Linked DNA regions of Homo sapiens: region 1 is linked to region 2. Evidence: fine-mapped expression QTL. A gene starts in region 2. The other region holds a variant in brackets. All regions are shown on one strand. Distances are between the middles of the regions. Region 1 overlaps HERC3 (HECT and RLD domain containing E3 ubiquitin protein ligase 3). Region 2 holds the start of HERC3 (HECT and RLD domain containing E3 ubiquitin protein ligase 3).

The links. PIP is the estimated chance that this variant, and not a neighbour inherited with it, causes the effect.
Region 1: its variant is fine-mapped to the expression of HERC3 in whole blood (TOPMed, PIP 0.99).

The regions. Positions count from the first base shown.
Region 1 is chr4:88,706,231-88,709,140 of GRCh38, forward strand. It overlaps HERC3 (HECT and RLD domain containing E3 ubiquitin protein ligase 3), which reads left to right. Exons shown (of 26, transcript NM_014606.3): 26 at 522-2,309. The coding sequence ends at 730. Among named protein-coding and RNA genes, the nearest start is that of FAM13A-AS1, 2.1 kb to the right of the region's middle. The variant T/C (reference allele first, on the strand shown) is at 1,685.
Region 2 is chr4:88,590,618-88,593,486 of GRCh38, forward strand. It overlaps HERC3 (HECT and RLD domain containing E3 ubiquitin protein ligase 3), which reads left to right and starts at 1,863. Exons shown (of 26, transcript NM_014606.3): 1 at 1,863-1,957. RefSeq lists silencers at 1,369-1,428, 1,599-2,158, 2,479-2,869.

The DNA of each region.
Region 1 (2,910 bases), 120 kb after region 2:
CAAGGAGCTGTCTTTCTCTGTCTGTCTCCCTCTCTCTCTTTTGCCAAGTCACAGTGCATGTCACAAGAGTGCAATGTCTAACATAATGTTTGGGTCAGCTCTTCGGGTTTAAGAAAAATGGAGACGTGGAAAGGAGAGCAAATAGATCCTAAATGGAATTCCGTAGACAAGGTGGTACAGGCATCAGGCACTTGAGGTGAGAGGAGACCCTGAGGTCAGAGACTTCAGTCTTCTTCTGTTTTCCCCTTAAGATCAGCTCCTCTTTTCCTATGACAGCAATTCCTTCCCTCTTTGATTTTGTGAAATCTAACATTTGTGAGGGTGTACATTTGATTGAGGCCTTTTTTTTTTCTTAACGGCATCTAATTTTCATTCCACAGGATGCATATTGGCACATAAATGTAATTGTACTTCTCATGCAAGCCACAGGGTGTCATGCCTTCCTCTCCTGTTGCCAGAAGGATCTCTGAGATCCATTTTCCGTTTGCTTAGCTGCTAATGCCATTTCTCGTTCTCCCCAGTGTTCCTGACAGGCAGCGATCGGATTCCCATCTACGGCATGGCCAGTCTGCAGATTGTCATCCAGTCCACAGCCAGCGGGGAGGAGTACTTGCCGGTGGCCCACACTTGCTACAACCTTCTTGACCTCCCCAAGTACAGCAGCAAAGAGATTCTGAGTGCCCGGCTGACCCAGGCCCTTGACAACTATGAAGGGTTTAGTTTGGCCTGAGGCTTCTCAGCTTGTCCAGTATTTCCCTTCGTTCCTCAGTGTCCACATTGAGGCCTATACAGAAAATCATGGGGAGTGATTTCTATTTTTTTATTGTCTAAGTGGGTTGGGACTTTTAAATACTGAGCCTGGTTGATGTGTTTCTGGGATTGTATAGCAGTAAACAACCTTTTTGAAAAATTAGAGGTTGGGGATGGGGTGAAAAATTGGCCCTTGTATGGGAGGTGTTTTTGTTTTTGTTTTAAACCAAACTACCCAGTATTCCTTGCACTTGTGAATGTGTTGCACTCTGCTGGATGAAATGGCAGTGGATTTTTAAACTTTAATTTCCCAAATGTCTCTCTCAGCCCTGATGTTTTCTCACAGTGCTTCCTTGTCCTTCTCTTAACTTCTCATTCCTCTATAAGAATGATTTAGACTGACCTGTCCTTTTTTATCTGCGCATGCGAGAACATCACCTTCCTCTGTACACTTGGAAATGCCTCTGGCTTGTTGCAGCCCTCCTTTAACCCAAAGGAGGAAAGGACTGCTTCAGAAACTCCCAATTCCAAAAAGCTGAGTCTGGGTCCATTATTTTGGCAGAACTCCTAAGAATTTATGGGAGCCTATATAAACATATCTTGCTTTTAAAAAGTTCTTGAGGGAATAGCAACTTTCCCATGGCTGTGCCTATTTCCTAGACCTTTTAAAAGATGTGCAGAGCAGCTTAGCATTCGTTGCAGCTGAGCCTAATTTTTTCTTGCTCATCCTTGTCCCTTTGACAATAAGGTTAATTGATAGACCCACCACCTCTTGCACTCTCGCTTTTGGAGCAAGTTGCATTAACTATTTTGAGTCTCTATATTGTCCAAGAAAAGTAGAAATAATAAATTTACTTTCCCTTTTTCTATCACCTTATGTCCTCTACCATTTTCTCCTTCCTCCCTTCCCTTATTTTCTCCTTTTCGTACCCTG[T/C]GTCCTCCCTGATTTTCCTTTCGTTTCTTCTTTATTTTATCCCATTCTCTGTTACTTGACTCAGTGCTCCCTTCCTCTCCTCTCCTTCTAGTGGATGCATGCAGCCTTTTTTTCAATTTTTATTTAAATTGCAAAATTTTTACTCAGATTTTTTTTCCTCTTCCCTAATTGCTAAGATTTAAGGACGTTCTTTATTATGAAACTTTATCACATTCGAAATGTTTGTTTACAGTGGGATTTTAGGGGGGATTGTGTTTAAATCAAATATATGTATTTTAAAAATAATGACATGCTCAACCTTCCTCATCATGGAGTAAGAAAATTCTACATGATTAAAGAATCCATGTAAGTCTAATTTTAAATTCCTAGTAACTAGAGAAAAGACTTATTTATATAAAATGAAGTATTTATGAACTGTGATAAAGCATCAAATCTTGATGAAGGATTGTAGATTTTTGCTTTTTCTTTTTGTTTTTAAAACTTATTCCAATTGCTAAATTGGTAGTTTTTCAGTCTTTATAAATACAGGATTAAAAATATATATACAGTTATATGAAATGTTTATTTTCTATGTGTGTGCATATAGTTCAATATTATGCAATAAATTTGGTGTTTTAACTTAAAACTATTTCTTATTGTACTTGCAGAATGGATAGCTTGCTTTTAGTAGAAGCATTAGGTCGTATACTCAGATAATCTAATAGAAGGTCAGATTTGATTCCTGCATAAGAAAGTAGAGCCAAGTGCTGCAGAAATGGAGAAGAAAGCAGGGGCAAGGAGCAGATGGCATTAAGGAAGAATGAAGTTTTTGAAGGTTGGGATGGACGAAAAGGTGTTTCTCATGGAGAGGGATGCTTTAGCAAAGGCTCAAACATTGGGGCATATTTAGGCAAGAGCCAAGAACAGTTTGAAGGGAACATCAGAGGAAATAGGCAAATAATAGTAAATAATGGTAAGTAAGACTTGGGAGAAAGAAGGTAGATTTGGGGCTGAGGAACTAGCCTAACACTGGAACTTTAGTAGTAGCCAAGTAGGATTTGTTTCAATGTTCAGAACTTGAGGGTGATAAGACCTGAGCCGGGTCTTAAGAAGGAAAATGTGGATGGTCTAAATCTGGAGGTATTGAGGTGGGAAGGACTGAAGCAGAAAGACAGGAGCTGAGACAGCAGTGACAGTGGCAGCAGCAGAACTAGAGAAGAGTATCTGAGGAGAGGTAGGGGGAGTGA
Region 2 (2,869 bases):
ACATATCAACCCAAACACTGATTGATTACAAACCTCATATGTGACACCTAACAATAGGATCTCTCACTTTCTCCTTTGCAAGTACCGGACTCCTTCGTCTTCCTACCAGACTCCTCTTTGGGCATTTAACCAGTTCTTTTGCCAACAGCATCTCTAAATTGGGATTGCATCTTTGTAATAGACTAAACTTTTGTGAAACTGCCACATATCTGGAATATAAGTGAATTGTGTTACTCTTGTCCCCAGTGTTTCTTTTTTCCTTTTTCTTTCTTTTTTTTTTTTTTTTGAGACAACGTTTCATTCTGTTGCCCAGGCTGGAGTAAGTACAGTGGCTTGATTTCAGCTTACTGCAACCTCCGCCTTCCAGGTTCCAGTGATTCTCCTGCCTCAGCCTCCTGAGTAGCTGGGACTACAGGCGCACACCACCCTACTCGGCTAATTTTGGTATTTTTTTTTGTAGAGACAAGGTTTCACCATGTTGGCCAGGCTGGTCTCGAACTGCTGACCTCAAGTGATCCACCGGCTTCGGCCTCCCAAAGTGCCGAGATTACAGGCATGGGCCACCGCGCCTGGCCATCCCCAGTGTTTCTAAACGTGTCAAGTGTGATCCAAATTTCAAAGGTTTGGATTTTTTCTTAGATGACCTGATAACTTAGATTCTGCTTTTTTAGCTTTCTTGTCTCAGTGTACTGGACAATTTGCATTATTTCACGGAGGGCTCAACACTGTCAGTCAGCCAACAACGTCTCATCCCCAGGATACACCACTCCTTGAAACTTTCTTTTCTACTTGGTCAGTCTGTTAGGTTCTCAGGACGAGCGATTGCAGACCTGAGGTGATTTGAATGTCCTTGGTAAGAATCTATCCTCAAAGGGCCTTCCTGCTTCAAATGCCAGGTTATAGAAATTCTTCCACTGGGAGAGTTATTCCTTTGGATTAAAGCAGTACCGTGCCAGTGTTCTGCATTTTACATTTAAGGGGGGCAGACACATGAAGTCACCTTTCTGAGGTTTTCTGCAAAAGATTAGCTGTGGATCAGATCAGGTCTAGGGCAAGTATGAAAGCACTAGTGACCTTGGGGAGGGGGAGGAAGCTCTGGGATTCGGCGCTAGGGAAAAGTGGAAGAGGACAAACTTTTAAAAAATCCGTTACTGGGTATAGGCCACAGAGTGTCTTTCAGATTACAAGATTTTAAGATCTGGTGCTCAGACTCTTCTTGCTATGCTCCCCCCGGGTCCACCCTCCAGCCTCCCCCAGGCCCGCCTTTCTTCCGCAGCCCCGTGCCGGTCTTCGATCCCCACCTCTCCAGAAGAGCGCCGGCGGCTGCCGCGTACCTCCTTCCCCGCCTCTCCCACCGCGCAGCGCCGCGGGCCGGCGCCGCGCTTCCTACAGTCCTACGAAGGGGAGTAAAGCAGAAGACTAGCGCACTCTCCCTCAATTGTCACCCTCCAGCTTTTTCCCCCGTGCCCAAGGCTTTCGGTCACCTCTTCATAAATAATAAAAACCAGAGTCCAGAACCTGAATAGGCAACCGCTGATCGGTCCAGCTCGCTTCCCCGCCAGTGAAAAGCAATCTTATTTCAGCGTCAACGCTCTATGTCTTGCAGTCCGATTTCGGCTGACACACCCGTGCCGCTGTCCCCGCGCCGGGCCCTCGAGTCCTGTCACCTCGGGCAGCCTGCGCCTGGCTCTGGGGCCTGGGCCTCTCCCCTCCTCCTGCCCGCGGACCTTGCCGCCCCGCCTCCAGCCCGTGCCACGGCGGCCGCCATTGGCGCGGGCCCATCCCAGAACGGCGCCCATTGGCCCGGTGCGAAGCCATTCACCCAGCGCATTCCGCCGCCCGCAGGCTTGCGGGGAAACTTCCTTATTATTGTGACGCCGAAAACGGAGAAACCCCGGGTCCGGCGAGAGGGGCTGTGACAGTCGGAGTCCCAAGCTGCGGTTCGGCTGCTGCCGAGGTGCGCAGGGCGGGGGCCGGGGTTCCAGGGAGGGGGGTACGGCGGAGCTGCAGCCGCGCTGGGCCGCGTTCCGCCTGGCACTGCAGTCAGCGCGCGGCTCCCGGAGGGGCGGCTGCGGCTCCTCCCGTGGCTCCGGCGGCGGGGGCTGCAGGCACCTCCAGAGACGACCTGGGTCTGGGGCGCGGGGAGGTTGGGGCGCGGCGCCCTTAGTACCCTGCGTACGCCTCCCTGGCGTTCTCGTGGGCTCGCCCTCCGGTCAGAGAGCCCCGCGCCGGGAAAGGCGAGACAAGCCTTCAAAATGGGAGCGCCTCCCGCCCGCGCTCGGCCGCCCTCCCGCCCTGCCGCCCGGGAGGAATTGCGACGCAGAAAGTCAAAAGGAGGATAGTCCCTATGCTCGCCCCCTGCCCCTATTTAAATTCTGGGGTTCCAGGGACCTCCGTGCAGTGAGGGGCGCGGACGCTTTCAATTGAAATGGGAGCTGGCGAGGCCCTGGCATTTTGGGGAACCTCAGCGGCCGCGAGGAGTTTGCGCCGAGGACGCGGTGCACGGCGTCCGCGATGACAGCGCCGGCAGGGCTGCGGGGCCCGGCACCACCCACTTCGCGGAGGCCGGGCCGGCTCGCCTCTCCCGGGTCCGCCTCCTGGGCGGGGCCGGGGGCGAGGGTGTGTGCGGACACGTGTGTACGGGTGTGTGTGTGTGTGTACGCCGACACGTCGGTGCGGACCGACGCGGGGGTGTCAGGAGCTGGGACGGCCGGGGGCAGGTGAGACTTGAGTCATTTGTGAATGTGTGGAGTGGGCAAACCAGGGCAACCAGACCGAGAGGAGCATGTGTAACCTGAAACAGGTGAGCCTATGGAGACAGTACCTAATGCGACTGTGCACGGAATATGTGTATGCAGCATGAGCTCCA